Homo sapiens: one gene and its partners. The protein of the gene in region 3 interacts with the protein of the main gene of each other region in a pairwise test. Each region holds a gene or a part of one and is shown on either strand. Other genes may lie near its edges. The genes, in order: RAET1L, RAET1G, KLRK1, ULBP2 and RAET1E.

The links.
Region 1: the proteins of KLRK1 (region 3) and RAET1L interact in binary tests that used the Homo sapiens proteins (3 or more experiments, as listed by UniProt).
Region 2: the proteins of KLRK1 (region 3) and RAET1G interact in binary tests that used the Homo sapiens proteins (3 or more experiments, as listed by UniProt).
Region 4: the proteins of KLRK1 (region 3) and ULBP2 interact in binary tests that used the Homo sapiens proteins (3 or more experiments, as listed by UniProt).
Region 5: the proteins of KLRK1 (region 3) and RAET1E interact in binary tests that used the Homo sapiens proteins (3 or more experiments, as listed by UniProt).

The regions. Positions count from the first base shown.
Region 1 is NC_000006.12:150,021,600-150,028,922, forward strand, and holds the start of RAET1L (UL16-binding protein 6 precursor), read right to left. Parts: upstream 3,934-7,323; 5' UTR 3,873-3,933; coding exon 3,788-3,872; intron 645-3,787; coding exon 381-644; intron 1-380. UniProt on the Homo sapiens protein: Binds and activates the KLRK1/NKG2D receptor, mediating natural killer cell cytotoxicity.
Region 2 is NC_000006.12:149,919,280-149,926,253, forward strand, and holds the start of RAET1G (UL-16 binding protein 5 preproprotein), read right to left. Parts: upstream 3,843-6,974; 5' UTR 3,732-3,842; coding exon 3,647-3,731; intron 538-3,646; coding exon 274-537; intron 230-273; exon of another isoform or gene 46-229; coding exon 1-45.
Region 3 is NC_000012.12:10,379,930-10,386,469, forward strand, and holds part of KLRK1 (NKG2-D type II integral membrane protein), read right to left. Parts: intron 1-6,540.
Region 4 is NC_000006.12:149,945,980-149,951,380, forward strand, and holds the end of ULBP2 (UL16-binding protein 2 preproprotein), read left to right. Parts: intron 1-392; coding exon 393-674; intron 675-1,340; coding exon 1,341-1,450; 3' UTR 1,451-1,472; exon of another isoform or gene 1,473-1,477; intron 1,478-2,743; coding exon of another isoform or gene 2,744-2,748; 3' UTR 2,749-3,256; downstream 3,257-5,401. UniProt on the Homo sapiens protein: Binds and activates the KLRK1/NKG2D receptor, mediating natural killer cell cytotoxicity.
Region 5 is NC_000006.12:149,881,273-149,887,030, reverse strand, and holds the end of RAET1E (retinoic acid early transcript 1E isoform 1 precursor), read left to right. Parts: 3' UTR 1-2,526; coding exon of another isoform or gene 2,527-2,543; 3' UTR 2,544-3,852; downstream 3,853-5,758. UniProt on the Homo sapiens protein: Binds and activates the KLRK1/NKG2D receptor, mediating natural killer cell cytotoxicity.

The DNA of each region.
Region 1 (7,323 bases), on a different chromosome or scaffold from region 3:
TTTTTTTTTTTTTTGAGACAAAGTCTCACTCTGTTGCCCAGGCTGGAGTGCAATGGCACCACCTCGGCTCACTGCAGCGTCTGCCTGCCGGGTTCAAGGGATCCTCCTGCCTCAGCCTCCCAAGTTGCTGGGATTACAGGCATGCGCCACCATGCCTGGCTAATTTTTGCATTTCGGTAGAGACAGTGTTTCACTATGTTGGTCAGGCGGTCTCGAATTCCTGACCTTGTGATCGGCCCACCTCTACCTCACAAAGTGCTGGGACTACAGGCGTGAGCCACCGTGCCCAGGACCCTTTTGTATTTTTACATGAAAACTATAAATGCCTCTAACCTACCACTGTATCTGCTCCCTGCTGTCCTGGGCCATCTGAAACTTACCCTTGGGTGTGTAATTCTCCAGCTGAATGTCAAGCAGTTGCTCTGTAAGTATGTCCACCACCTCTCTCAGTACTGGGTTCTGTGCTTTCCAGGCCATTGTGACATTTAGTTTCTTCCCCAGGGGACTGACGGGTGTGACTGTCTTGTTGCCACAGTCATAGTGAAGAAAAGTCTTTTCATCCACCTGGCCTTGAACCGCACACCACCGTGGTCCAGGTCTGAACTTAGGGATGACGGTGATGTCATAGCAAAGAGAGTGAGGGTCTGTGGAGAAAGGCAGGTGAGGGGTGGGTGGGGAGGAAAAGACCCCTAGTTAGCCCCCCTCCACGCTGTGTCAATAAGAGGATGCCTCTGGCAGGCTGGGCTGGCCCAGGAAGGAGTGCCCCCTCCAGAACTGTGGTGTCTACAAGTTTAAGGCGAGTGCTCGCCCCTTGCATGAGGACAAGGAGGAGGAGGAGGAGGAAGTCTCTGTCTGCTGAGAAACCACATGTCCCCAGACATGTCCCACTGCCCCTCTGCCCACATCAGTCAACACATGACCTTGCTAGAAAGGTGCCAGGCCTCTCTAGCAAGAGAGGAGGAAGGGCCTGGATGGCAGAGGATCTTCAGCAGTAGCCCACGTGGACTGCGGGAGGTGGGAGAGGGTGTGGGTCCACCCCTGTGGATGCTGGTGCTGGTTGAACAGAGTGAGGATGGAACCCCGTTGGATAAAGAAGAGTTAATTATCATGGTCACAGGATGTAACATGTTGGCAAAGCCCCTGGTGATGGCATGCATCTGCTATGAGGAGGCCTTCCTGAAACCTTGGACAAAGAGATGGTCCACACAGCAAGAAATGGAAAATCTGAAAGTCTAAGGCAGGTAGTGGAGGGAGAGATCACAGGCTCAGAGAAGTGCCCATGCCAGAGGGGTCTAAGTGTGAAAATCCAGAACAATGTCCATCCACTGTGCTTATGGGAAACCTGGAGGACTCCTGTTTACCCAGCATATAAAGAAGGCCCCATGAGAAGGCACCAGAATGGAATGAAGCTTAGGGATGCCTATTGCTGAAGGCCAGGGTTGGGGGTAGGAGATGCTGTTCCTGAAATCTGCTCCCAGAGTAATGGGATGAACAATTCTGAAATTCCAAATTCCAGGTGGAGGCTGTCAACTGTCAGGAGCAAGGAGGGTGCAATGATGGAAATGATTAGAGAAGTCACAATGCCAGCTGGGGACCTCAGTTATACAAAGTTATGCCCATGGCTCATAGAACAAAGGGGTCCAAAGTCCAAAAGAGATGGAAACCCACCCCGGATACTGCTGGATTTAAATAATTACAAGAAACAGAGATAAACCAAATCAGGAGGCTGAAAGTAGCCAGTCCATCAAGAACGAGGCTGCTTTGCCTAATTTGCAGAATGAAGCCACTTCTCAGACCCTGAACCCATGACTATAAGAAGACACCAGTTTCTAGTGAGGAAGGACCCTTTAACCCTGCAGCCAGGACAGTGAGTCCTTGTGGCCTTCTCCAGAGATATTTATGGCCAATAGAGTTTGCTGTGAAGGGCAATTTTGTAAACATGTAAAGGTGTTCAGGGAATATATTCTCCATTGTAACTACTCAACTCTGCTGTTGAAGCTCAAAAGCAGCCATAGACAATCCATGAATGATGAGCGAGGCTGGACCTACCTTAAGTGCCCAATGACCCAAGACCCCCTAAGATCCTAGAGGTACATGTGGTCACAATGTCTAATTGGAGAATCACAACAGAGATTCCATGTGAATATTCAGAGACAAGGCAATGCCACTCACAGCAAGGAAATCGCAACATTAAGCAGTGGCTCCTGTAGAGTACTGCACCTTGGCAGAGATGGGGCCTTTTGCCATGCATATAAAGAAGGCCCCATGACAAGGCACCAGAATGGAATGAAGCTTAGGGATGCCTATTCCTGAAGGCCTCAGAGCTGCCCATTACTGGTGGGCTCCTCGCCCTCTAGGTCATTAGGAAGATAGGCCCAGCAGTGAGAAGATGCAGGTGGTTCTTCTGGGATGGGCAGGAGCAGGGCCACCGGGAACCAAGAAGTTGCACAAGCAGTTGGACCTGATCCCCAGGACACCACGTGGCTGCACCCACTCACCCTCAGCTCACACCTGAGGCTTCAGGGAGGGTACCTGATGGTCCCCATGGATGCCACTCAGCACAAAGGAGGGGAGAATAAGCCCCCAACTATGGGACCCCCACTCCCATCACATCCACACCACCCAGAAGCCACAGGCAAGGTAGGGCCACCTTCTACTTTCCAACTGACATCAGAGACATCACTTGGAGATGACACCCTAGGGGATGGGGCACTGGGACACTGTAATCCCCTGATCTGGGATCAGCAACCTAGGACAGGGTCCAAATCTGGTCCCCCCTCTTTGAAGGTTGCCATTGCCTGCTGTTGCTCTACAAAGGGACAGGACTGGACACAGAGACGGAGAACCCATGGCCTGCAAAGATCACAGGGCATCCTTCCTCCCTTTCTAGAAAGGGTTTGCTGACCCCTGTCTACACAGTGACTATTCTCTATGACGCTGACACCCCCGTAGGAAGAACAGGCGGTCTGGGCCCCAAGGGCAGAAGTGGGTGCCTCTACTCACCAGAGTTCCCAGGGTCATCCTGGAGGAAATGGTGCTTCCCATCCCCCCTGCACAGGTTCTGAGGGGAGCTTGGGGTGTGTTTGTTGGGGTGTGTCCTCAGGCAAGAGGCAGAAGGTGCGACGTGGTGTAGGAGGTGGTGAGGTACCCTTCATGGATGGGGAGACCTCAGGGGTGACCAGCTGGGCTGAGGTGGGCAGTAAGAGGATGTGACCTGGGTGGTGGCAGTGGATGGTGAGGGGAGGGGTGGCGGGTATCTGCTGAGCCCCTGGGTGCAGGTGAGTGTCTACAGGAAAAGTGCGGGGAAAACAAAGGCAGGGAGTCCTGGGGGTGCTGGAGGGTTTGTGTGGTAGAGAGCAGGTGAGAGCAGAGCAGGCTTGTGGCTGGTGGGGGCGTCTGTGATTGTATCCCTGTGGTACCCCCCTTCACCCAGTCCTGACCCCAGCTCTGTTCCCGGGGGGGCTCTGGTTTCTCCTTCCGAAAGGCGGGTGGGACTGCCGGGCTGCACTAGGAATCCGGGCCCCACCTAGCCCTCGCAGCCCTCTGGCCCCTCCACCCTCCTGCCAGCCTCGTTTTCACCCTGCTCTTTTTCGCCCCTACTGGGGCAAGAACAGCCTTGGGGAGTGGACCCGGCGGGAAGGAGCCCAGGAGGGGAACTGAGCTGGGGGCGCAGTTCGGGGAGATCTCCCTTGTCCTTCCAGAAGCCTTCCCTCCTCTGAAACCCGCTGCAGTCCACAGTCCCTCAGGTTTGGCCCCCGCCCCGCTTAGGCTCCATCCACCAGCTCACCGTCTCGCCTAGCCCGGGACCAGCCGAACAGCAGGAACAGAAGCGGGAGGCACAGAAGCAAAGCTGGGATGGCGGCTGCTGCCATTGGGGACCAGGAGGGCTGGGGACAAGAGATTTAATCAAGGTGGATCCTGGAAGATGAAATCACCTCTGTGCTGAAAGGCTGGCTTATATACTGTTAGTTACTGGGGAATGTACCGGGGAATGAGTCACCTCGATTCTGAAAAGCCAGATTTTAATGCTACTGGGCGTAGTCACTGGGCGCGTTCCACCTCTTCGTTTCATTGTCTGGACGAAATCCAGTTTCCATGCTAGTGTCCCTTCCCTTCTTCACCCGCTCCGGCAGCTTGGTGGCCTCGTGCCCGGGCCCCACTCCTGCCAGGACACGATTCCTTCCACGACAGACTCATTTAATCATTATAGCATTTTTTATTAATGGTGAAGAAACGTGCAGAGGAATATTCAGCGGCCTCGGCGTCTCCTTGTCCCCGCCTGGGTCCGCGGCACTCTCCCTCCTTCCGCTTGCGCCGCGGGGTCCCTGGCTCACCCCGCCCTGGGCACAGCCATGGGCCTGTTCGCGTCCCCTCCACTACTTCCCCAGTCCCCGGTGGGCGTGGTTACAGTCCGGGCTGGGTTTTATTTTTTATTTCTTTATCTATTTATGTATTTGGAGATGGGGTTTCTCTCTTATTGCACAGGCTGGAGTGCAACGGCCCGATGTCGGCTCGCCGCAGCCTTGTCTCCTGGGTTCAAGCGATTCTCTTGCCTCAGCTTCTGGAGTAGCTGGGATTACGGGTGCCCACCACCAAGCCCGGCGAATTGTTTGTAGTTTTGGTAGAGATGGGGTTTCACCTTGTTGGCCAGGCTGGTCTCAAACTCCTTTCCTCAGGTGATCCACCCACCTCGGCCTCCCAAAGTGCTGGGATTACAGGCATGAGTCAGCGTGCCCGGCCTGGGCTAGGTTTTATTACAGAAACAGCAGGTAGGGTTTCAGAGGTTCAAAACAACATATTGTATAGTAAACAATTGGTGAAGATGGTAAATTCTATGTTCTATGTTTTTACCAAAATTAAGCAGCTTTAAAAATTATCTTAACAATTTATGTCTTGCTTCTGCTTCACCCAGTGCAGACTGGCCAAAAGGCTGCTCATTAAAATCGAGGACAGCATTGAGGACCTCATCCCTAGAATCTCAACCTGTGACACGCTTGCTGATTTAGAAAGCTCCTCAGAGAGATTACCTCTGAGCTCCCAGTTCAGCAGCCGCCCTGGCCCAGGTCCACCGATGGCACAGGGGGCTCAGCAGAGCAGGTTCAACTGAAAGTTCCTAGTGGTTCCCAACTGTCAGCGCATTCTGCTGGCCTCTTCCCCCTGGGCAAAGAGCCAGCCATCCTTCAAAGCCGGGCACAAATACCCCCTCCCATGTGTGTCCTGCATGTTCCCACAATACAGAACACCCTCCTGCTCCCTGAGACCTGGGTTCACAGTGGGTGCATCCAGATCTCCCTGTGTGACAATTGCTCACACATTTCTTTGCCTCTCTGCTAGAAGCATGAGGTCTTTGAGAATATACTACATCCCTTCCTAAAAAGACCTAGTGAACAACTTGCTCAATCATGTAATCAATTGTGTTTCCACGAAGAGCAGGAGCCGAGGGAGGAGTCTACACACGTGTGGGGTTCACTTTCCAGCACACCAATCCGTGGCCAACCACACCTGAATCCATGGCTGCACCCACACCTCTGCTCAGCCCCTAGATGGTCACTGGACTCATTATCAAAGGGGCAACCCCAAGTGCCCCCTTGTCTTAGTCACCATGAAGGCATCTAGACCTGTGGGCAGAAGGCAGAGGGAGGTGGGGGGCCCAGCGATCCCTGGCTGTTGGGATAAGGAATGGGCAGAGCCCCTGAGTCCCACACTGCCCCCAGCCACTCAGCCTTCTCCCTATTAAATGAGTAAAATAGACACAGACCTTCTTCTCCACACAGTTGTCATGTGGGGAGGATGCACACCTGGTGACCAGCAATCCCCAGAGCCCTGAGGCTGCGGGAAAGGGGAGGAGGCCTAGACCAAGCCCAGGGACTGTCTCTGCTTCTGCACAGGGGGATGGGATAGCAGCCCCTCTGTGACTGTGCAGGGACACAGGAGCCTAGAAGTTTCTGGCCTGATGCACTAGAGCCTCTGTCCAGGAGGGGCCATGTGGAGGGTGGTCTGGAGGACAACAGACACACGGGGGTGGGCAGTTCTCAGATCTGAGAGGGGCAGAGCTTGGCAGGTCCAGGGATCTGTGTGTGAGAAGTGCCTCCCATGCATAGGGCTGGGAACAGGAGCGTTTGAAAGGAGGGTACTGGGAAGGCCCTGGCAGCCCCCACCCCTGAGGCTGGGTGACCTGGGCCAGTGACCGGGGGACTGGGGGAACAGGAGGAAGGCAGAAGCCTGGCAGAAGAGTCCCAGGCAGCACAGCCAGGTGACAGTAGGAGGGGACTCTGTGCACACCTGGGCCCTCCTGCCTCACACCTGCTGCAGACTCTCGGCCACCAGATTCAGGCCAGCCCAGGATGGGGATAGACGTGGCTGAAAGGTGATTATAATGGCCGTGATCTAGAGAGCATGCATTCAGACATGGAAGTCAGCTGGCATTGTGGCTGAATATTCTTGTGCAAGTTTCTTCACCTTTCTGGGCATGGATGTCCACATGTGGAAATTAATACTATGAACACAGAGGAAATGAGCAGTTTATGCCAGGAACCCTGTCCTTGCACATGCTAAGGACTCAGGGAAGGTTTCCTATTTCACATGTGAGCCCTGCCTTCCATAACATCAGCAAAGGCCAGACCCAACCAGATGACAGCTGGAGCCCTGCGATCATGCCATGGCCTCTTCATGGCCCTGGGGGCTCTTTGAATGGGTGTAAATGAAGGCAAAGACTGGACCCAGAGAGGACGGTGGTTTTACTCTCCATCACCAGGTAAGCCTAACATGATTTAAGGGTGGCTGGAGGCTGAGCAAATGACTGAATGAATGAGACAGTTGTGGGAGTGAATGGGGCTCAGGGGAAAACCCCAGGTGCAGAAGTGGAGCTGGAGTGGAGGTTGTAACCCCCAGAGGCCTGAAGGTGAGGATATCGTGGTTGGAGACCTCACTGCTGGCACAATTTGGAAATGTGAATGCCTGCCTGGGCGGCCACAAAGATTTTCCAAGGAAGAATAACTTTGGTTTGCAGCTGGTCTGGGCCCCAGCAGGATAAAATCTAGAAAACATTATTGAAGAAGGACAGCAAGCTGCTCTCTTTAGCCCCTTTGATTGAACCCAGAGGGTACAATTGTGAGTGGTTGGGGCAGGAAAACCTTGCCCTTTAAACTTTGTTTAAAGGAACGAGCCTGAAATCAGGAATGGAAATGGGAAAAGGAAGGGTCAGGAGGGAAGGGAAGGAGAAAAGAAGGGGTGAGGGGCAGATACAAAAAAAGGGTCAGAGCGATTCCTCTGGATCTGGAGAAAGAGCAGGTGGGTGGGGCGTGGACTGGCTCCAGCTGGTGG
Region 2 (6,974 bases), on a different chromosome or scaffold from region 3:
CGGCTTTCTGCTCACAAGACATCCTGGCCTGCAGGGTGAGGGGTTCTGCCCCCATCAAAGAGAGATCAGCTCTGGCCTTGACAGATATTGAGCCCCCATCCTCTTCCACTTGCAATTTCCTGGTCTTACTTGCTCTGCCACATCCTGGCCTTGCCTCTAGACGTCTTGCGGGGTGAGATGACCTTCCTATTTGTATTTTTACATGAAAACTATAAATGCCTCTAACCTACCACTGTATCTGCTCCCTGCTGTCCTGGGCCATCTGAAACTTACCCTTGGGTATGTAATTCTCCAGCTGAATGTCAAGCAGTTGCTCTGTAAGTATGTCCACCACCTCTCTCAGTACTGGGTTCTGTGCTTTCCAGGCCGTTGTGACATTTAGTTTCTTCCCCAGGGGACTGACGGGTGTGACTGTCTTGCTGCCACAGTCATAGTGAAGAAAAGTCTTTTCATCCACCTGGCCTTGAACCGCACACCACCGTGGTCCAGGTCTGAACTTAGGGATGACGGTGATGTCATAGCAAAGAGAGTGAGGGTCTGTGGAGAAAGGCAGGTGAGGGGTGGGTGGGGAGGAAAAGACCCCTAGATACCCCTCCTCCACACTGTGACAATAAGAGGAAGCCTCTGGAGGGCTGGGCTGGCCCAGCAAGGAGTGCCTCCTCCAGAACTGTGGTGTCCACAAGATTAAGGCGAGTGCTCCCCACTTCCATGAGGGCAAAGAGGAGGAGGAGGTCCCTGCCTGCTGAGAAACCACATGTCCCCAGACATGTCCCACTGCCCCTCTGTCCACATCGGTCAACACAGGACCTTGCTAGAGAGGTGCCAGGAGTGCTAGAGGAGGAAGGGCCTGGATGACAGAGGATCTTCAGCAGTAGCCCACGTGGACTGTGGGAGGTGGGACAGGGTGTGGGAGCTGCACCTGAGGATACTGGTGCATGGTGGGACGGAGTGAGGATGGAACCCAGTTGGATAAAGAAGAGTTAATTATCATGGTCACAGGATTTAACACGTTGGCAAAGCCCCTGGTGGTGGTGCTCATCTACTATGAGGATGCCTTCCTGAAACCTTGGACAAAGGGATGGTCCACACAGCAAGAAATAGAAAAATCTGAAAATCTAAGGCAGGCAGTAGACGGAGGGATCACAGGCTCAGAGAAGTGCCCAGGCTGGAGGGGTCTGAGTGTGAAAATCCAGAACAATGTCCATCTGCTGTGCTCATGGGAAGCCTGGAGGACTCCTGTTTACCTGGCATATAAAGAAGGCCCCATGAGAAGGCACCAGAATGGGATGAAGCTCAGGGATGCCTATTGCTGAAGGCCAGGGTTGGGGGTAGGAGATGCTCTTCCTGAAATGGGCTCCCAGTAGTAATGGGATGAAAAATCCCGAAATAACAGATTCCAGGTGGAGGTTGTCAACTGTCAGGAACAAGGAGGGTGCAATGATGGAAATGATTAGAGAAGTCACAATGCCAGCTGGAGACCTCAGTCATACAAAGCTATGCCCATGGCTCATAGAACAAAGGGGTCCAAGATCCAGAAGAGATGGAAACCCAACCTGAATAGTGCTGGATTTAAATAATTACAAGAAACAGAGATAAAACAAATGATGGATGACCAGGAGGCTGAAAGTAGCCAGTCCTTCAAGAACAAGGCTGCTTTGCCTAATTTGCAGAATAAAGCCACTTCTCAGACCGTGAACCCATGACTAGAAGAAGACACCAGTTTCCAGTGAGGAAGGACCCTTTAACCCCGCAACAAGTGCAATGATTCTTTGTGGGCTTCTCCAAACGTATTTATGGCCACTAGAGTTTGCTATGAAGGGCAATTTTGTAAACATGTAAAGGTGTGCAGGGAATATATTCTCCATTGTAACTACTCAGCTCTGCTGTTGAAGCGCAAAGGCAGCCACAGGCAATCCATGAATGAGCGAGGCTGGACCTGCCTTAAGTGCCCAATGACCCAAGACCCCCTAAGATCCTAGAGGTGCATGTGGTTCCAATGTCTAATTGGAGAATCACAACATAGATTCCATGTGAATGTTCAGAGGCAAGGCAACGCCACTCACAGCAAGGAAATCTCAACATTAAAAAGTGTCTCCTGTAGAGTACTGGGCCTTGGCAGAGATGGGGCCTTTAGCCATGGAAGGGCCGTGACCATCCAGCCTCAGAGCTGCCCATTACGGGTGGGCTCCTCACCCTCTAGGTCATTAGGAAGAGAGGTCTGGCAGTGAGAAGACACAGGTGGTTCTCCTGGGATGGGCAGAAGTAGGGCCACAGGGAACCGGGAAGCTGCACAAGCAGTTGGCCCCGATTCCCAGGACACCACGTGGCTGCACCCCCTTACCCTCAGCTTACACCTCAGGTTTCAGGGAAGGTCACTGATGGCCCCCGTGGACCATAGATGCCACTCAGCAGCAAAGGAGGGGAGAGTAGACCCTGAACCATGGGACCCCCACTCCCATCACATCCACACCACCCAGAAGCCACAGGCAAGGTAGGACCACCTTCTACTCTCCAACTGACACCTGAGACACCACTTGGAGATGACACCATAGGGGATGGGGTACTATTTGCTGGTACACTGTAATCCCCTCATCTAGGGTCAGCAACCTAGGACAGGGTCCAAATCTGGTCCCCCCTATTTGAAGGTTGCCATTGCCTGCTGTTGCTCTGCAAAGGGACAGGACTGGACACTGAGACGGAGAACCCAAGGCCTGCAAAGATCACAGGGCATCCTTCCTCCCTTTCTAGAAAGGGTTTGCTGACCCCTGTCTACACACTGACTATTCTCTATGATGCTGGCGCCCCAGTAGGAAGAACAGGCAGGTCTGGGCCCCAAGGGCAGAAGTGGGTGCCTCTACTCACCAGAGTTCCCAGGGTCATCCTGGAGGAAATGGTGCTTCCCATCCCCCCTGCACAGGTTCTGTGGGGAGCTTGGGGTGTGTTTGCTGGGGTGTGTCCTCAGGCAAGAGGCAGAAGGTGTCACGTGGTGTAAGAGGTCGCGAGGGCCCCTTCATGGATGGGGAGACCTCTGGGGTGACCAGCTGGGCTGAGGTGGGGAGTAAGAGGATGTTACCTGGGTGGTGGCAGTGGATGGTGAGGGGAGGGTGGGAAGTGTCTGCTGAGCCGCTGGGTGCAGGTGAGTGTCTACAGGAAAGTGCAGGGAAAAATTCAAGGGCACGCAGCCCTGGGGGTGCTGGAAGGTTTGTGTGGTTGAGAGCGGGTGAGAACAGAGCAGGCTGGTGGCTGGTGGGAGTGTCTGTGATTGTGTCCCTGTGCAACCCCACTTCACCCCTGTCCTGACCCCAGCTCGGATTCTGGGGGCTCTGGTTTCTCCTTCCCGAGGGCGGGTGGGACTGCCGGGCTGCACTAGGGATCCCCGCTCCACGTCGCCCTCTGCAGCCCTCTGGCCCCTCCACTCTCCGGGGGTTCCTTTCCAGCCTCCTCTCTGACCAGCTCCTCCCCTCGGAGGATAAGTAGCCTCTGGGAACGGACCCGGCGGGAAGGAGACGCGGAGGGAAACTGAGCGGGGGCGCAGTCCGGGGTGATCGCACGGGTCCTTCCAGAAGCCTCCCCTCCTCTGAAGCCCACAGTCCACAGCCCCCCACGGTTGGCCTCCGCCCCGCTTAGGCTCCATCCCCGAACTCACCGGCCAGCCCGGTCCTGCACCAGCTGGACAGCAGGAGCAGAAGCGGGAGGCGTAGAAGGAACGCGGGGCTGGCGGCCGCTGCCATTGGGGAGTTGGATCGCAGGGGACAGCAGAAGCGAAGCCCAGCCCGTGGATCACCTGGCGGCTCGCAGGCTGTCTGAATGCAGCCCGTCTGAATGCAGCCCTAAACTCCAGTAAGCCCTAAACTCTAGCACTCCTTCTGCCCCGCCCCTCGGAGGAAACACACCCCCTTTGCTGAGCCGCTAGCCAATCAGGTGTCTCTCAGCCAAGTTGCTCATCCAAGTCTACCCCACTTTCTACTGCAGCGCTCGCGCACTTCCCCCTGCTTCAGCCAGTCAGACTTTGCTGGCTGCCTGCCCGGGACCAGTCCTGCCAAAGGCTTCTTTCCATGACCCCCTCATGTAATCATCACCGCAATTTTTTCATTTTGTATTAATCCAATGTGGATACCGATGCACAGAAAGGTGAAGAAAATGCACAGAAGTGTTCAGCCGCGACAGGGTCTCCCTGTCCTCGCCTGTACCTGCGACACCCGCCTTCCCTCTCCCTGCGTTGCAGAGTGCTCCCAACCCACCGTCCTGTGCGCAGATCCAAGCCCAGTCCCATCCCCGCGGCCTCATCCCAAATCCCGAGTGGACGTGGTTATAGCCTGGGCTAGGTTTGTTTGTTTGGTTGGTTGGTTTTTCTTTCTTTTCTTTTTTTTCTTCGTGACAGAGTCTCGCTCTGCCGCCCAGGCTGGAGTGCAGCGGCGCGATCTGGGTTCGCTGCAACCTCTGCCTCGCGAATTCAAACGATTCTCCTGCTTCAGCCTCCCAAGTAGCTGGGACCACAGGTGCGCGCCACCAAGCCCGGTTAAGTTTTGTATTTCAGTGGGGACGGGGTTTCACCATGTTGCCCAGGCTGGCTTTGGACTCCTGGGCTCAAGTGATCGGCCCGACACGGCCTCTCAAAGTGCTGAGATCACAAGGGTGAGCCACCACGCCTGGCCCGGGGCTAGATTTTATTACAGAAGCACCAGGTCTTCAGAAGCTTCAAAGAAGATATTGTACACTAAACAATTGGTTAAGATAGTAAATTTTATGTTCTACTTTTTTACCAAAATTAAACAGCTTTAAAAATTATCTTAAAAATATGTGTCTTGCTGGGATCTGCCCAATTCGGATTGGCAAAAAGACTCTGCTCATTAAAATCTTTGCATTTTAATGCAAAGCATTGAAAACCTTGTCTCTAAAATCACAACCTGTGAGGCACCTTGCTGATTTAGAAAGCACATCAGAGAGATTGACCCTGAGCTCCCCTTAGAACAGTGCCCCACCAGGTGTGGGGATGGCCCAGGGGACTCAGCAGAGCAGGTTCAAATGAAAGCTCCCCATAGCTACTAACTGCCAGCGCTTGCTTTGGGCCTGTTCCCCCTGGGCAAGGACCAGCCATCCTTCCAAGCCGCGCACAAATACCCCCTCCCATGTGTGTCCCTCATCTTCCCACATGAAGGAACACCCTCCTGCTCCCTGAGGCCTGGATCCACAGTGATGGAGCGTATCCGGATCTCCCTGTGTGACAAATGCTCACACATTTCTTTGCTTCTCTACTAGAAGCATGAGGTCTTTGAGACTATACTAGATCTGTGTACAGCTTTTGAGGGAAAAAAGCCCTAGTGGCCTACTGTTGCTCAATTGGAATGTGATCAATTGTGTTTCCCATGGGAGCAGGAGGCAAGGGAGGGGTCTGTGCGTGCGTGGAGCTCACTTTGCAGTACACCCATCTGTGGCCAACCATTGATGCCTGGATCCATGGCTGCACCCACACCTCTGCTCAGTCCCTGGACGGTCCCTGCGGCCATCCTCAAAAGGAAACCCCAATTGTATCCTTGTCTTAATTATCATGAGGGCATCTGGAAGTGGTGGCAGAAGCCAGAGACAGGTGAGGGTCCCAGTGGTTCCTGGCAGCTGTGAAGGGCTTAGCTTAGGGTGAGGACTGGACAGAGCCCCTGGGTCCCATTCTGCCCCCAGCCACTCAGGCAATATCCTCTTTTCCCCTTCTCTCTCAGCCTCTTCTCACCCTAGGGCTGTACCCAAAGCTCTGAATGAGACTGTCCCTGCCCCGCCCCATCCACTCCTGGTCCAGCTCAGCAGTGACCTTGGAACTCCAGGAGCAGCTCAGTACCCCTGTCTCCGAGTCAGCTCTGCTCCAGGCAGGGCCAGAATCTGGAGTGTGCAGGAGGCCGGATGGCAGGGGCATTGCCCCAGGACTGAGCCGTATTCTGAGGGTTCCCAGAGACCTGACCTCCTACTTGTATACAGTCTTTTCAGTCAGCGTCTGCCTTAAAGGCTGTGACCCAGGCACCTTCCCTGGGAATTAACTCCAGCATTGTCCTCTGGGTCGACACAGTCCTTGGCAGCCTCTCCTTCCTGGGGTTACACCCAGTTCCTCTGCTCTTCTCCAGTGGATGGAATCTCCTTCTCCTTGACACACAGCATCTGGAGCCACCAATCTGCTGCCCCACTCAAATGTGAGGACCGCACATGCCTGAGCTCCTGCTGTCTGCACACCACGCACCGTGGGGGTTCCTTATGACCAGAGACACAGTCTGAAACAGACCTGAATTTGCTAAACCCTCTAGAGCTCGACAGGACCTAAGCCTTGATATGGTTCTGTGTGCTCCTCCCAGGGCGCCCGCTGTCCCCGAGCTCCGGGCCTGAGTGCTGGCTGGCGGAGACCCACAGTGGGTGCCCCGCTCCCGGACGATGCCCCTGGGCTTCCAGATCCAGAGCCTCGGGACGAAACTGTTTCAGGAAGACCCGGAAGGACTCGCCGGTCGCGGCAAGGGACAGGCGGTTCCTGAGACAGGAGGAGCCAGGAAATGCGGGGCCTGGTGGGGTGAGGAGCACGGGGTTCCTCCTTCATCCTCGCGGGGACTTTGCCACCGGCTCAGTGTGGAGGCCTCACCGTCCCGCCCGGATCCGTGGGGCTCCGACAGTGTGGCCCCTGCGAGGACCCCCCCCATCCTCCTCGCCCTGGGGCTGCTGCGGGAGGGCGCCCGGGCAGCACTAGGTCCTGAGTGTCCAGGGTCCGGCAGGGGCTTCCCGTTGTCGCCTCCCTGACCCCGCCGCTTGCGGTCCAGGGCTGCTGGTTTCTCCGCTGGTCTGGGAGGCCCTAGCATGGACGTCGTGAGGCGGAGAAAACCTTGGGATGGGTGGAAAAGAAGGATTGGAGGGAGGGCGGCAGAAAGGGAGAGGAAGGAAACAGGGCCGGAGAACAATGAGAAACCCCCACCACGAAAATGGGGAGAGGGGGACACGCGCACAGC
Region 3 (6,540 bases):
ACAGAACATAAATACCTCGCAAATGATCAAAAACTAGAGTACAACAATGTAATATTTCCTTCTATACTTCTCTACAAGTTCCCCAGTCATCCCTAGAGTAAATTATGCTTATGATTTTTTGTTGTTATTGTTTTTTTTTTTTTTTTTTTTTTTTGAGACGGAGTCTCGCTCTGTCGCCCAGGCTGGAGTGCAGTGGCGCGATCTCGGCTCACTGCAAGCTCCACCTCCTGGGTTCACGCCATTCTCCTGCCTCACCCTCCCGAGTAGCTGGGACTACAGGTGCCCGCCACCACTCCCAGCTAATGTTCTGTATTTTTAGTAGAGATAGGGTTTCACCGTGTTAGCCAGGACGGTCTCGATCTCCTGACCTCGTGATCCGCCCGCCTCGGCCTCCCAAAGTGCTGGGATTACAGGCGTGAGCCACCGCACCCGGCCGTGATTTATTATTTTTATGCAGATACAATAATAAACATAAAGAAGGAGGAAGCATCATCAAGATGGCTAACTACAGGCACCCAGCACTCACTTCCACAAAGGACCAAAACAACAAGTAGATAACCACACATTGAATAGAGTGTTGAAGGGAGAAGGCTGGAATTCAGCAAGAAAGTGACCAAGTCTCTCTGAGGCACAGATGCTCAGGGCGATAGCATAGAAAGGGAAGAGAAGCAGGTGACATGGATCAGCTTGGAGCCAAGAGGGACTCTCCACTGAGGAGAAAAGGTAAACAGGAGCTCCCCAGCAGTCCACATTCCCATTATAAATACCTGCTATCCTAGGTATAGGAGAGCTCCACATTCCTCACGATCCCTGAGTCCAGTATAGGGAGTTCACTGACATCCACATAACTGCATTATTCCAGAGTGGGAATTCACACTGGGGTCCCTCCTCTTCTCTGGAACACAGGCTGCAGCAGCACTGCACCATTTTGAGAGTGTAGCCACCACCAAAGTACGCTCTGCCCTGGGGCCTAATAGTTCCTTTATCTTCGCATGTTTGGGGCCCAATAGCTTATGCATCTTCACATCCCTGGGGCCCTGCTGACATTCCACCAAATCCACCTAGAGGACTGTAGCATAGCCACACCAGGTGATCCCAACCAAAGGTGTAGTCATGACCCTTGCATCAAGCCTATACAGAGCCCTATGCCCAGGGAACAGGAGATGCAGCCAAGCACAGAGTCTGTCCTCAGCATAGAGAGAGTCATGCATGCGCCCCCCCAGATTCCCAGAGCCACTCACTTGGAGCCCAGTGCCACCACTGCCAGCAATCCCACTTTCTCCAGCAGCAGGCCAGAAAAGCATGGGATGATATATTCAAAATGCCAAAAAAAAAAAATACCTCCTCCCAAACAAGAATACTGTATTAAGCGAAACTATCCTTTAGAAATAAAGGAGAAATACTCTTCCAGACAAGCAAAAACTGAGGGAATTCATCACCACTAGACTAGCCCCACAAGAGATGCTTAAGGGAGTCCTATATCTGGAAGCAAAAGGACAATATCTATCATCATAAAAATACACAAAAGTATAAAACTGGTTGGTAGAGCAGATACACAAATAAGAAAGAGAAAGGAATCAAACATTATGGCTACAGAGAACCACCAAACCACAAAGATAAATAATGATAGAGGAGAAAAAAATCAATGGGTAGGCAAAACAACAGGTATATCAGAAAACAATTAAGAAAATGGCAGAAGAGCAAGCTGGCTGTGAAGAACCCTTTAGTGATTATCTTCTCACAGAAACATCAAATTAAATAATTATCCATGCAAGAAAATACCTTCAAAAGAATTCAAGAAATTAGGTGCGCTATCACAGTACCCTGATTTTAGCATGATAACGAGAAAAAACACATTAAAGAGGTAAGAAAAGATGGTCTTGCCTTGCCTAAACGCCTCTCTTCCAAACCCAGATAGTGCAGTGCTTAGAGAAAAACTGCCTGCTTGGGAAATGGAAATAAGAGTGTGGGACTTTGTGTCGGAACTTAGACCTGGCCCCACCACATTGGAACACAGCAAAAGACAGAGACCCCATGGCCCTTGATTCCAAACCAGTGCTCATATGGGGAGCATTTTGACCCACCGTGGGCCAGAGGTGAATCCACTGCTTAGGCAGGAAGAACCTTAGTCTCAGCCCACTTTATCACCAGCTGACTAAAGTGGCCTTGGTCCCAAGAAAATTTCAGTGGTTGCAGGCCATAGCAACCATGGCCCTTGGGCAAGCCCTGGCACAGCACTGGTCTGGGAGGCTGTGGACAAACAGAAAACTTTCCAAACCCAGAGAAAGATATGAATAACCAAATACCGGAAGGTCAAAGATTAGCAAGCAGATTCAACCCAAATGAGATCACCACAAGACATATAAAATTTAAATGTTCAAAGCTCCAGACAAAGTGAGAATTTTAAAGGAAGCAAAATTTAAAAAGCAAAATAAATATAAAGAAGCTTCAACACATCTGTTAGCAGACTTCTTAGCAGAAACTTTATAGGCCAAGAGGAAGTGGGGTGACATATTCAAAGACCCAAGGAAAACAAAATGCCAACTGAGATACCGTACCCAGCAAAACTATCGACATGATGGAGAGAAAAAGTATTTCTCAGGCAAACAGAAGTTGAGTGAATTTATTACCACCAGACCTGTCTTACATGATATGCTAAAGAGAGTTTTTTCAGTCAGAAAAAAAAGAACACAAATGTGCAATAAGAAAACATTTGAATGTATAAAACTCACTGATAAAAGTAAGTACACAGACAAATTCAGAATATTCTAATACTGTAATTGTGGTGCCTCAACCACTCAGATCTTATGAAGACCAAAAGACAACTCTATCAAAATAATAGTAATTACAATTTATTAAGAGATAGTCAATATAAAATGATGTAAATCCATACAAACATAAGTCAACATGTGAGAGGAGATGGAGTTAAAGTGTAGAGTTGTTTAGTTTTTTCTTTTGTTGTTTTGTTTTTCTTTGCTTTGTGATCAAAGTTAAGCTGTCATCAGTATAAAATAATTGCTATAAGCTATAAGATGTCCTTGTAAGTCTCACAGTAACCACAAAACAAAAACCTATAATAGATACACTAAAATGAAAATCAAGGAATTAAAATACACTGCCAGAGAAAGCAACTTAATCACAAAGGAAGACAGGAAGAAAGGAAGACTTACAAAACCACTAGAAAACAAGGAACAAAATGGCAATAGTAAGTTCTTACATACCAATAATAATATTAAATGCAAGGGGGCTAAATTCTCCAAGTAAAAGACATAGAGTGACTGAATGGATTAAAAACAAAAAAAACCAAACAATATATTGCCTACAAGAAACCCACTTTGCTCATAAAAACACACATAGACTGACTGTATAGGGATGAAAACAGATATTCCATGAAAATGAAAACCAGTAAAGAGCAGGCACAGCTATACTTAGATAAAATAGACTTTAAGTCAAAAAGAGTAAAAAAGAGTCAAAGAAGACCATTATATAATGACAAATGGGTCACTTCAGCAATATAATATAGTATTTATAAGTATACATATGCACCCAATATTACAGCACTCAGATATATTAAGTAAATATTAATAGATCTGAAGGGAGAAATAGATGAATACAATAAGGGCAGGGGAGTTCAACAACACATTTTAAGCAATGGACAGATCATTCAGGCAGAAAATCATAAAAGAAACATCAGAGTAAAACTATAATATAGACCTAATGAACCTAACTAAATGTACAGAACATTTCATCCAACTGCTGCAAAATACACATTCTTCTTATCAGCACATGGAACATTCATCAGGACAGACCATATGCTAGGTGATAAGTCTCAAAACATTTCCAAAAGTCAATATTATATCAAGTAAATTTTCTGACAACAATGGAATAAAACTAGAAATTGATAACGAGGAACTTTGGAAACTGCACAGATACATGAAAATTAAACAACATGCCTTTGAACAAATAAACAAATTCAGTAAAGTTTCAGGATCAAAAATCTGCATACAAAAATCAGTAGTGTTTCTATACACCAATAACAAACTGGATGAAAAAGAAATCAAGAAGTCAATTCCATTTGTAATACCTACAAATAATAAAATACCCTGGAATAAATTTAATCACACAAGTGAAAGACCTCTACAATGAAAACTGTAAAATACTGATGAATGAAACCAAAGAGGATGCAAAAAAATGGAAAGACATCTCATGTTCATAGACAGAAAGAATATTGTTAAAGTAATCATATGACTCAAAGCAATCTACAGATTCAGTGCAATTCCTAACACGATACCAGTAACATTCTCTACAGAAATAGAAAAATATCTTAAAATTTATATGGTACCACAAAAGACTGAATAGCCAAAGCAATCTTGAACAAAAATGAAGAAAACTGGTGGCATCACGTTACCTGACTTCAATATATACGACAAAACTACAACAACCAAAACAGTATGGCATTGATATAAAAATAGACACCTAGACCAATAAAACAGAATAGACAACCCAGGAATAAATCCATGTATTATAGCCAACTGATTTTTCCAGAAAGTCACCAATAACATACACTGGGAAAGGAGAGCCTCTTCAATAAATGAAGCTGAAAAAACTGGATATCCACATAGAGGAATGAAATTAGACCCTCATCTCACACCATATACAAAAATCAACTCAAAATGGATTAATGACTTAAATATAAGAACTGAATCTATAACACTACTAGAAGAGATAAGAGAAACACCACAGGACATTAGTCTAGGCAAAGATTTTATGGGTAAGAATTCAAAAGTACAGGCAACAAAAGCAAAAAGAAACAAATGAGATTGTATCAAACTAACACACTTCTCTACTGCATAGGAAACAATTGACAGAGTGAAGAGACAACTTGTAGAATAAGAGAAAATACTCGCAAACTATTCCTCTAACAAGAGACCAATATCCAGAATATACAAGGAATTCAAACAACTCAACAGCAACAACAAAAACTGATTTGAAAATGAGCAAAGGATCTGAATAGATATTTCTGAGAAGATATACAAATAGCCACAGATATATTTTTTGAAATTCAACATCATTCATCATCAAGAAGATGAAAATCAAAACCACAATGAATATCATCTCACCCTAGTTAGAATAGCTATTATTTAAAAAGACAAAAAATAACAAATGACAGTGAGGATGCAGGGAAAGGCTAATGTTTATACAATTTTGGTGGGAATGTAAATTAGTATAGCCATTATGGAAACAGTATGGAGGTCCCTTAAAAAACTAAAAATATAACTACCATATGACTCAGCAATCTGGGTCTTTCTCCAATGGAAAGGAAATCAGTATATTGAAGTAACGTCTGCACCCCCATGTTTATTGCAGCATTATTCACAATAGCCAAGATATGGAATTAACCTGTGTCCATTAACAGATAAATAGCTAAGCACACACAGACACACACACACACACACACACACACACAGAGGAATACCATTCAGTCATAAAAAAAAGAATGAAAAGAATGAAATCCTATTATTTGCACCAACATGGATGAGTCAGAAGTACATAATGTTACGTAGAGTAAATCAGGCATGGAAAGATAAATACCACATGTTCTCACTCATATGTAGGAGATACAAACTTTTAGCTCACAGAAGTAGAGAGTAGAATTGTGGTTATTTAAGGCTAGAAAGAATAGGGGGGAGGAGAAGATTGGGAGAGGTTGGTTAATGAATACAAAATTACAGCTACATGCGGGATTTTTCTAGTGTTCTATAGCACTGTAGGGAGAGTACTGTTAAGAGTAATTTATTGTATATTTTCAGATAGCTAGAAGAGAAGGTTTTGAATGTTCCCAACACAAAGAAGTGATAAATGTTGAGGTGATGGGTGTGCTAATTACCTTGATTTGGTCATTAGACATTGTATAGTTGAATGGAAATATCACTGTATCCCATAAATATGTATAATTATTACATGCCAACTAAAAATAAACAAAAATTACCGTTCCCCTTAACTACATATTAAAAATACATTTTAAAGAAACTATAATACACAAAATATCCTATGAATTTTTTTTTTTTTTTTACCTAAGACAATATCCTGGTGATTAGTCCTCATGGCGTATAAGGATACCAAATTTATAAATAGCTGCATTGTATTTCACTGACAACTCTGGACAGATCTAATTTTTGACGGACTGTCAATTTTTTTTTCCAGTGGATATTTAAATTGTTTCTTAGGTCTTGCTATGAGAAATAATGATACATTTCATACCCATCTGTGCATATTTTTGAGTCTCTCTCTGGGATAAATTCCCACAATGATAATTGTTGAGGGAAAGGGCATGTGTGTTTTAAATTTTGGTAACAATTGAATATTTTAGTCCAAAAAGGGATTTTTACATATAGCACTTTGCATTCCTTAAATTAATTCTTGTAAAGAGATGCTATTTGTTAATAATTTGTTTCTTAGTTTTTAATAAAAATTGATAAGTGAGGGTCATCTGTTGTTTTCCTTTTCATACAAACTATATAAAGGTCTATTACCAATAAT
Region 4 (5,401 bases), on a different chromosome or scaffold from region 3:
AGCCTGTAATCCCAGCATTTTGGGAGGCTGAGGCAGGCGGATCACGAGGTTAAGAGATCGAGACCATCCTGGTTAACACAGTGAAACCCTGTCTGTACTAAAAATACAAAAAATTAGCCGGGTATGGTGGCGGGCGCCTGTAGTCCCAGCTACTTAGGAGGCTGAGTGAGCCGAGATCGCGCCACTGCACTCCATCCAGCCTGGGTGACAGAGCGAGACCCTTTCTCAAAAAAAAAAAAAAAATACAAATGGGAAGGTCATCATACCCCTCAAGAGTCTAGAGGCAAGGCCAAGATGTAGCAGAGAGAGTAAGGCCAGCAAATTGTAAGGGGAACAGGATGGGGGTGCAAAATTTGTCAAGATCAGAGCTGATCTCTCTCTGATGGGGGCAGAACCCCTCACCCTGCAGGCAAGGATGTCTTGTGAGCAGAAAGCTGAAGGACACAGCAGTGGATCTTGGCAGTTCAGTTTCGATGGGCAGATCTTCCTCCTCTTTGACTCAGAGAAGAGAATGTGGACAACGGTTCATCCTGGAGCCAGAAAGATGAAAGAAAAGTGGGAGAATGACAAGGTTGTGGCCATGTCCTTCCATTACTTCTCAATGGGAGACTGTATAGGATGGCTTGAGGACTTCTTGATGGGCATGGACAGCACCCTGGAGCCAAGTGCAGGAGGTAACAGGAGAAAAAGAAACGGGGATCTCAAATGTGATCAGAAATGGTGACCTCAAGAAGTTAGTTCTTGAGTTCAGCTTCAATCATCCCAGTATACACATTCACGTTAAAATGACCTCCTCGTGGGGCGCTCCTCCTGGGGTTACTGGCATGCCTGTGCTCTCCCACCGTCCTCTTCCTTCTCCCTCCTGACTCCTATTCCTCACTGCACTTGCTCCTGCTCCCCGCCCTGTGGATTTCTCACCAGCCTTGAAACTGCAGGTGTCACTGTTTTCAGACCTTTTTCCTTAGTGTTTCCTCTTTTGAGAATCACTTTTCCTTTCCTTTCCCTGGTCTGGTTCTGGAAATCCATCAAAACCACTTCCAACGCCAGCCCAGAGATCCTCCCCTCCCCAACTCTGGGGCATCACCTCCTCTTCCCCCACAGCAGGAGGGTGGGGTGTGTTGTCACCTTGCTTCCCTCAGCAGCTGTGTGAGCTCCCTGAGGACAAGACTCACCCCGTCTCCCTTCCTAAGCCAGGACCTGTCATACTGGCTGCCCCACACCAGGGGGGAGAGGACAAAACTTTTGCCTTCCAGGATGACCTAGGGTGGCAGGAACTGAGGAGGTGTCTCCTCAGATTTGGGGCCTGGACAAGGGTTGTCACTTTTGTGTTTCCATTTCAGCACCACTCGCCATGTCCTCAGGCACAACCCAACTCAGGGCCACAGCCACCACCCTCATCCTTTGCTGCCTCCTCATCATCCTCCCCTGCTTCATCCTCCCTGGCATCTGAGGAGAGTCCTTTAGAGTGACAGGTACTGTGGGCAGAATTGGAAGTGGAGCAAGGAGCAGGTGGGTGAGGAGGCAGGATGGGGAAAGAGAATTCCCGGAGTCCCGCCCCTCCCCGTGGCTGGGACCTTCTCATCCTAACATGAGACAGGTGAATGAGACCTTGTGTTGCCTGTTGGCAATGTTGGCAATGACCTGGGCAGCTCAGCCCTGAGTTCTGATGGATTCTCACCTTCAGAGTCCAGAGGGAAAGGGAGGGGCCCATACCAAGGCTCAGGGTCTGTTGAGCTTGAGAAGGTTTAGCAAGTTCAGGCCTGATTCAGAGCAGGTTCCTATTCAGGAAGGGTGTGTGGCCTGCAGGCAGCAGGAATTCAGACATGGGCAGTCCTCTTAATTGGGTTAGGTGCATCATGGTAGCTTTACATGAGGTGTGACAGGGGAAGGGGGATTCCATCTCTGAGGCTAAGAGAGATCTGGGTGTAATCCCAGGAGGAGGGGGCTGGGAGAACCTTGGTACACCTAATTGAAAAGGAGGGAGTGCAGGGCTGCCTTCCCACAGAAAGTGGCTTGGGTTCCAGGAATTAAGGTGGAAGGTGAAGAGTAGAGGCTGCTCAAGAGAAGGATTTTTAAAAAGTCAGTCCCATGGACATGTGCAGCTCGAGTCTGGGCCCTGAGGCAGCTCCCCTGCCATCATCCTCCTGCACACCCCAGATCCTGAGCCCACTGATGGCCCTGCCTGGAGCAGAGTGGACTCAGAGGAAGGGGGGTCTGAGCTGCTGCTGGGGTTCCACAGGCACCACTGGGCTGGACAAGGAATTGATAAGGTGGAACAGGGACAGTCACCTTCAGAGCAATGGGTGCTGCTCCCAGTGTGAGGAGAGGCTCAAGAAGAAGGGGAAAGAAGGATGTTTGCCTGCAGGCCCACCAAAGGCCAAGGGCACAGGAATATGGAGCCCTCTTTTTGGAAGTCTGCCCCACCCCTTGCCTGTTTTAGGCCTTCACATCAGATCATAGAGAGGGCCTTGAGTGAGGGCGCGGACCCATCACTACCAGCTTCAGACCTGCAGGCCCCTCCACTCCATCCCCTGGTCAGGTGCAGGGCCTGGGCTGACTCTGTGATGTGACAGAGGAGGAAAGAGGTAGGTCCAAGCTGCAGTCGCCAGGGTTGAGGCTCAAGGGAAAAATAGGTCCCTTAGTGCAGGGGGCTCTGAGACATAGAGTGACTAGGGAAAGATTACCCTGGAAAAGTGATCCGGGTTCTCTGCCCCTTAAACCAACATTTGTGTCCTTTCTGAAGGTTAAAGCTGATACCAAAAGGCTCCTGTGAGCACGGTCTTGATCAAACTCGCCCTTCTGTCTGGCCAGCTGCCCACGACCTACGGTGTATGTCCAGTGGCCTCCAGCAGATCATGATGACATCATGGACCCAATAGCTCATTCACTGCCTTGATTCCTTTTGCCAACAATTTTACCAGCAGTTATACCTAACATATTATGCAATTTTCTCTTGGTGCTACCTGATGGAATTCCTGCACTTAAAGTTCTGGCTGACTAAACAAGATATATCATTTTCTTTCTTCTCTTTTTGTTTGGAAAATCAAGTACTTCTTTGAATGATGATCTCTTTCTTGCAAATGATATTGTCAGTAAAATAATCACGTTAGACTTCAGACCTCTGGGGATTCTTTCCGTGTCCTGAAAGAGAATTTTTAAATTATTTAATAAGAAAAAATTTATATTAATGATTGTTTCCTTTAGTAATTTATTGTTCTGTACTGATATTTAAATAAAGAGTTCTATTTCCCAAAAACCTACGGTGTTTAGAATTTTGTTGTATTACTCAGTAGGGAATTAATGTTATTTCATTTTTCCTCCATGATATGGAGTAATAAATGAGTGATTCTACCAGATTTTGTGTGGAAAAAGAGAATCTACAAAACATGGCTGAGAAAAATCAGAGACAACACAAATACATAGAAAAATATTTCATGCTCATGGGTTGGAGAATCAATATAGCTAAAATGGTCATACTTCCAAAAGCGATTTATAGATGCAACACTTTCTCTATCAACACCAATGTCATTTTTCACAAAATTAGAAAAATCTAATCTAAAAGGTATTTGGAATTAAAAAAGAGCCCAAATAGCCAAAACAATCATAAGCAAAAAGAACAACGCCAGAGGCATCACATTGCCTGACTTCAAACTATAATATAAGGCTACGGTGATCGAAACAGAATGGTACTGGTACCAAAATAGACACTTAGATCAGTGGAACAGAATAGAGAGCTCAGAAAGAAACCTTCACACCTTCTAACCTTCAACAAAATCAACAAAAATAAGCAATGGGAAAGAGTCCCAATTCAACAAATGGTGCTGGGATAACTGGCTAGCCATGTGCAGAAGAATGAAACTGAACCTCTACATTTCACCATATATGTAAAATAACTCGACATGAATTAAAGATTTAAATGTAAGTCCTAAAACTATAAAAATCCTGGAAGATAACCTAGGAAATGCCACTTTGGACATAGGGCCTGGCAAAGATATCATAATGAAGACACCAAAAGTATTTGCAACCAAAAACAAAAACTGACAAATGTGATCTCATTAAACTAAAGAGATTCTCCACAGTAAAAGAAATTAGCAACACAGTTAACAGCCTATAGAATGGGAGCAATATCTGCAATCTATGCATCTGGCAAAGCTCTAATATCCAGAATCTACATGGAACTTAACAAGCAAGAACAAAATTGCAATTAAAAAATAAGCAAAGAATGTGAACAGACGCTTTTCAAAAGAAGACATGCAAGTGGCCAACAAACATGAAAAAATGCTCTTTGGGAAGCCGCAGTGGGCAGGTCACAAGGTCAGGAGTTTGAGACCAGCCTGACCAACATAGTGAAACTCCGTCTCTACTAAAAATACAAAAATTAGCCAGATGTGGTGGTGCATACCTGTAACCTGTAATGGTGCATAGTCTGATGTTGGAACTATGAAGTACCTTGGACTGGTACTTTATAGTGTTTTCCAGCAGACAGCACTGCTTATTTTTCAAATATTTCAATAAGTCGGGAGGGTTTGCTGACAGCGAGTTTGTGCCCTGAGCTCTTTGGCACTGAGGGCAAAGAGCAGAGGGGTGTGGTCTGGTGGCCCAGCATTTCTGCCCCGGGGGAGGATTCTCTTCTGCTGCAGTGAAAACCAACAGGACGCTGCTTCATCCCAAGGGGACTAGGAAGATAGGTCAGAGTGAGGAGCTTTCTGAGTGTTTCAGATCACACAGTGACTGCCTGCTTGATGGCTTCAGAACTCCTTCATTAGCTGGGAGACAGCCCCCGAGGTAAAAGGTGCATGGGCACGATGGGCTCGACATGACAGCTTTCGAGATGACAGGCAGTTTCTCCCGTGTGTTTCTATGTGTCTTTGTGTGTGCCCGTGTATGTGCATGGCTGTGTCTGTATTTCTGCATGCATTTATGTATGTGTGTTTGTTTGTGTGTGTGTGTGCCTGTGTGGTGTGAGTGTGTGTGTGTGACTGTGCCTGCATGTCTCTGTGTGTGTGCATGTGTGTCTGTGTGTGTGTGTGATAACATGCATATATGAATGGTGAATTGATTTTCTGCTTGATTTGCTATGGAGGGAGACAGGGACTCCAGGGGGGGTTCCTGCCCACCCCTTGTTCCCTGTCTTCTGACATTCCCTCCTCCCTGTGGAAAGAGTCTACCCCAGTAACTGAGGGTTCGTTAGTGCAGACGTCTCACAGCTCTCCAAAGTTCTGTGATATTTGTATCCCCAGGCCTCCTCCTCATGCTTGTCCATCTGCTGGATGCCCTGTCTTCTCGAGGCCACCTGGCCACGCTGTATTCTTCCTATGCCTACAAGAACAGTCTGAAATGCCATCTCCTGAGAAGCCTCCATGCAACTCTCCAGGCAGAATGAGTTACCCCCTCTTCTGCC
Region 5 (5,758 bases), on a different chromosome or scaffold from region 3:
TGGGAGGCAGAGTGGGCCTGGGGAAAGGTGTATTACAATTCAAGGGGAAAAAAATATATCTGCCACCCTTTGGGGAGGGCCTCCCCACTGTGTCGCATGGATTTCTCTGTCACGGGGAAGAGCAGCACCCAGGGAAAAAGAGCTTTGTGTGCCCATGACACATTCCTATTTTGTTGTCTCTGGCATTTCTGGGCATTGTTTCTGCTGAAGTGACAGAAGAGAGAAAAAGCTGATCAAAGCTAAATGACAGAGCAAAGGGGTTGACAGGGAGTGTCTTTTCAAATACACAGGGACATTCACCAAGAAGGGCCATTTTTGGATCATAAAATAAATCTCATCTGGGCGTGATAGCTCACTCCTGTAATCCCAGCACTTTGGGAGGCCAAGTTGGGTGGATCATTTGAGGTCAGGAGTTCGAGACCAGCCTGGCCAACATGGCGAAACCCTGTCTCTACTAAAAATACAAAAATTAGCCGGGTGTGGTGGCATGGGCCTGTAATCCCAGCTACTCGGGAGGCTGAGACAGGAGAATCGCTTGAACTCAGGAGGCGGAGTTTGCAGTGAGCTGATATTGCGCCATTGCACTCCAGCCTGGGTGACAGAGTGAGATTCCATCTCAATAAATAAATAAATAAATAAATCTCAACATATGTAAAGGGTTAAAATCATGCGAAGCATCTTGTCCAAGCACAATGGAAATAAACTAGAAATCAACAGCAGGAAGCTATCTGGAAAAATCCTCAAATGTTTGGATATCAAATAATATGCTTCCAAATAACTATATATCAAATTAAAAAGTACAAGGAAAACTAGAAAGTATTTTGAAATGAATGAAAATGATAATACAAAATATCAAAATCTATCAGACACAGATAAGAAAATGTCTAGAGGCATCCACACTGAACTTTTTGATCTCTGAATCACCGTGCATCATTGCTGCCAAATTTTTTGCTCATGCTCATCTCTGCCTGGAATTTTCTTTCTTACCTGACCGAATTCCAGACAGCTATCCAAGTCCAGTTTAACTGTCACCTCCTCTAAGAAGTCACCATTCTTCCTGGATAGAATTAACTACCCCCACTCGTAGCTCAGAAACTCTGACCACAGAAAAATTATCACATTGTTTTATGATTGGGTGTATGTCAGTAAATTGATGCGCTTACTTGAGGACATTACTTTTGTAACCTGAGAATCTATCATGGCTGCTATATAGTAGACGCTCAGGACATGTGAGGACTTGAGTGGCAGCGGAGGTAAGGGTCATCTCCTGGGTATGGAGCTTGGACAAGAACCTGCACTCTTCTGTTCCATTTCACCTCAACCATCCATGTCCCCAACCACATCTCCACCATCCTACCTGTACCAAGTGCTAATCCTTTGAATCATGTCAGTGACTATCTTCAGCTCAATCCCAATCACAGGTCAGGAGGGAGGGCATCAGGTATACTGTGAGCAAAACAGAGTATGAGATGGGGCCAACTGGCCTCTGGATTAGGGGCAGGGCTTGTCCTGTATGAGGACAGGGAGAAATGAGGTTGCTAAGTCTCCCCAAGACCCCTGCCAAATCTCACCATAGACATAAGATGAGGTGAATTTCATTTATCGCCTGGGCATTCACGACCTGAGAGGCTTAGCTCTGGGTCAAGTTGAGCCCTCTCTGTCCCTGGCCAACAGGAGAAAGGCAAAGGCTGAATGAGTCTCGGGGACTGTCTCTGCTTTGCAAGTGGGCCCTGAGGTGAACAGGGACCTTTCCAAATTAATGCATCCACAGCGGTTTGGCAAAGTCGGGCTTTAAACCAGGGTCACTCTCCAGGGGTTGCCTATGTGATGGGTGGTCTGATGGACAGAAACACAGAGGGTGGGCAAGACACAATTTTGGGTGGGGCAGCAGCTTGATGATCTGACCATCTGACCATGGGAAAGTATATCACATGCCAAAGGTTGAGGGGTCTCTAGGTTTAATTCCTAGGAGGACATAATGAAGAAGGCTGCCTGGGCTCCAACAAAGCAGGCTGGAGGCAGGGCCACACAGACCGTGGGAGAGGGGATTGTGAGCAGAAGGGAAGGCTGAAAGTGAACCCTAGACACTCTGTGAGGACAGCAAGGACTAGAAGGTGGGATTCCTTTGACACCTGGGTTTCTGGTTCACCCCTGACACAGGAATCCTGGCAAATGGCGTCGTGCCAAGCCCCACCCTCAGTGCTCTGGACCTGCCGCAGGGATACCCTTGCCCACAGCTGGAAGACTCTTGCCCCCGCTGTGGGCCTTCCCACTGTGTTCCCACTGATACTTTGCCTTCCTTGGCTCTGAACCCCTAAAATCTCTGCTGGGGTCTGGGTCTAACTAATGATGAAGTAACGGAAAGTGAACAATCATAAACTAGATGACAGAGAGGCAGAATGTGAACAATAGCGGCTGATCTCTCCCTGAGAGAGAGGTGGGATCTGAGTCCTGAGAGATCACGGAGGGGTCAATCCTGAGCTGATCTGACCCAGGGTTCTGCACTCTTTTGTCTCCTTCCTAAAGGCAGAAGATCCACCTAGAGGTGATACCACGGCGGCGCAGAGTTGTTCACCTGTGGTCCTCGATCGCTGACAGCCTTGGCTCCCACTGCTGTGTGTTCCCTGAGTCAAGTGGAGGCGGAGCCTGCAATGAGCGGAGATCGCGCCTCTGCATTCCAGTCTTGGCAACAGAGCAAGACTCCGTCTCAAAAAAAAAAAATTTTTTTTCAGTACATATTTTTTAAAAGATAGGGCTGGGCACAGCAGCTCACATCTATAATCCCAACACTTTGGGAGGCCTAGGCAGGAGGATCACTTGAGCCCAGGAATCTGAAGCTGCAGTGAGCCTTTGCTCGTGAGATTGTGGACCTATGATCCTACCACCAGCCCACCTGGTTCTAACACCCCCTCCTCTATGTGTGAGAGGGAGAGAAGAAAAGTGAGGGAGAAAAGAGAGATAAGCAAAGAACAGAGAGGAAAAATGGAAAATAAGAGGAAATTGGGGGAATTAAACAGAGGGGAGGGCATGGATCCCCGGGAGTTAGAAGAGTAGCAGCTTGTGGATTACTACGCAGTGGAGGAAGAAGAGTTGTTGGAAATTATTTGAGAGGTAGTATAATCATTTGTGAGGCAGTTTTCTGCATTCACCATTTCTCACAGACTAAGTTACTCATAAGCAAACGTGCAATTCACATTACACTGAAATTCTTCCCTAATACATCATTTGCATTGGAATAAAGTACGGTTTTCAAACAACCTGATATAGCAGAACTGACTGTATAAATTATGTGAGCACAGTGCAAGTAATTCTTTGTTTGTTTGTTTGTTTTTTTGAGACAGAGTCTCACTCTATCTCCCAGGCTGGAGTGTAGTGGTGCGATCCCGGCTCACTGCAACCTCGATCTCCCAGGCTCAAGCGATTCCCCTGCCTCAGCCTCCTGAGTAGCTGGGATTACAGGCATGAGCCACCACGCCCGGCTAATTTTTGTATTTTTAGTAGAGACGGGGTTTCACCCTGTTGGCCAGGCTGGTCTCGAACTACGGACCTCAGGTGATCTGCCCCCCTCAGCCTCTCAAAGTGCTGGGATTATAGCATGAGCCACTGAGCCCAGACACAAGTAGTTCTTTCTGATAAACACTTTAACACTGAATGCAAAAAAAAAAAAAAAATTGTGTGTGTACTTTTTTTAATTTTACTTTAAAATAGACACACCAAACATGTTTCTAAATAAATGTAATATGGAAATCTTTCTTTTTCTCCTCCATTCTCAGTGATGATATGGTTGTAAATTCTTATCATCTGATAATTTTTATCAGATCTTTACAAATTATAAACTTATTTGCAACTCTGTTTTCAGACTATCCCTTCTATTATGATCATGAAACTGAATTAAATAGGTAGCTATTTTTTTGACTTTTACTCCTTTATTTTTATTTTCATAGTTTTACAAGAATATAATATATGTAATCTGTCTTCCATTTTAAACCTAAAGTCTTCCTAATCTCTTCTTCATAGTTTCAACAAACATAAAGGTAACAATTCAAAGCACCTGTCGCTTCGACAAGAAGATATTTTACATATTTAAAAAAACAGATAACAATTTTAAAATACTTGCTATAAGAATAAAATTGTATTTAATAAGTAGAACTAAAATTTTGACTGATGTTGCAATAGATTTGGTGGGGGCTTTTTTTGTGGGTCTTTTTTTTTTTGAGTCAGGGTCTTGCTCTGTTGTCCAGGCTGGAGTACAGAGGTGTGAACGCAGCCCACTACAGCCTTGAACTCCTAAGCTGAAACGATCCTCCTGCTTCAGCCTCCCATACTGCTGGGACCACAGGCATGAGCCATCCCACCCAGCTAATTTTCAGATTTTTTTTATAGATATGGGCGTTTCACTATGTTGCCTAGGCTGGTCTCAAACACCTGGGCTCAGGTGATCCCCTGCCTCAGCCTCCCAAATCGCTAGGATTACAGGCATAAGCCTCTGTGCCTGGCCTCTTTATTATCATTATTATTTTATATTTTCAAACTAGGAAAAAAGCTATGCAGTAACAGAAAATTCTAGTTATATTTAAAACAGGATTGTAAGAGAAACATGTTAATGTAATTTTGGTTTTCTCTTTTTTATAATTTTAACATTTTAGATTCAGGGAGTACATGTGCAGTTTTGTTACATGGATATATTGTGTGACACTGAGGTTTGAGATATGAATGATCTCATGTAGTGAGCAGCAGCACAGTACTCAATGGCAGTTTTTAGTCCTCGCCCCTCCATCTCTCCCCTCCTCATAGTCCCCAGTGTCTACTCTTCCCATCTTTATGTCCATGTGTACCCAAAGCTTAGCTCCCACTTAAGAATGAGAACATGCAGTATTTGGTTTTCTGTTCCTATATTAATTCACTTAGGATAATGGCCTCCAGTTGCATCCATGTTGATCCAAAGGACACAATTTTGTTCTTTTTTATGGCTGCATGGTATTCCATGGTGTATATGTGCCACATTTCCCTTATCCAATCCACAATTGATGGGCACCTAGGTTGATTCTACGTCTGCTGTTGTGAATAGTGCTGCAATGAACATGTGAGCATGTGTGTCTTTTCGCTAGAATGATTTCTTTTCCTTTGGGTATATGCCCAGTAGTGAAATTGCTGGTCAAATGGCAGTTCTGTTTTAAGTTCTTTGAGAAACCTCTGAACTGCTTTCTGCAGTGGCTAAACTATTTCACATTTTCACCAGCAGTGTAAAGTGTTCCCTTTTCTCTATAGCCTCATCACCCATATGCTATTTTTTTACTTTTTCCCCCCAAAGTCTCAAGTTTTATTTAAATAGCCTCCAGTGAGAACAGAGTGGGCCAGTGACTACCCCTTCCTTGTAAAGTCTATTAACCAAACCAAGGAGAGTAAGCACACCCTGCAGCCAGCCTGCCAGCCAGTCATGTGATAGGCGGGGTGCCTCTCAATGGGGGCGGCCACGACCACGGCCCCAGCTAGCTGCTGGGGGAGCATCCACAGTCAATCGGATTCTTGATGGTTTCATCCACAGACACAATCAGGCACACAGCCTAAGAGGCCACTGCCAGGGCATTGATCCATACCAAAGCTGGCTCCCACACGAAGGCCTCAAAGTTGTCAGCAATGTCCTCGTTGTTGATGTCCACCTCATATCACGTGCCCCTGGGAATGCCATGCCTGCAGCTTGTTGAGAATCTCTGTGGCCCCAAAGCCAGCATTATTGTACAGCTGGAATGAGACAATC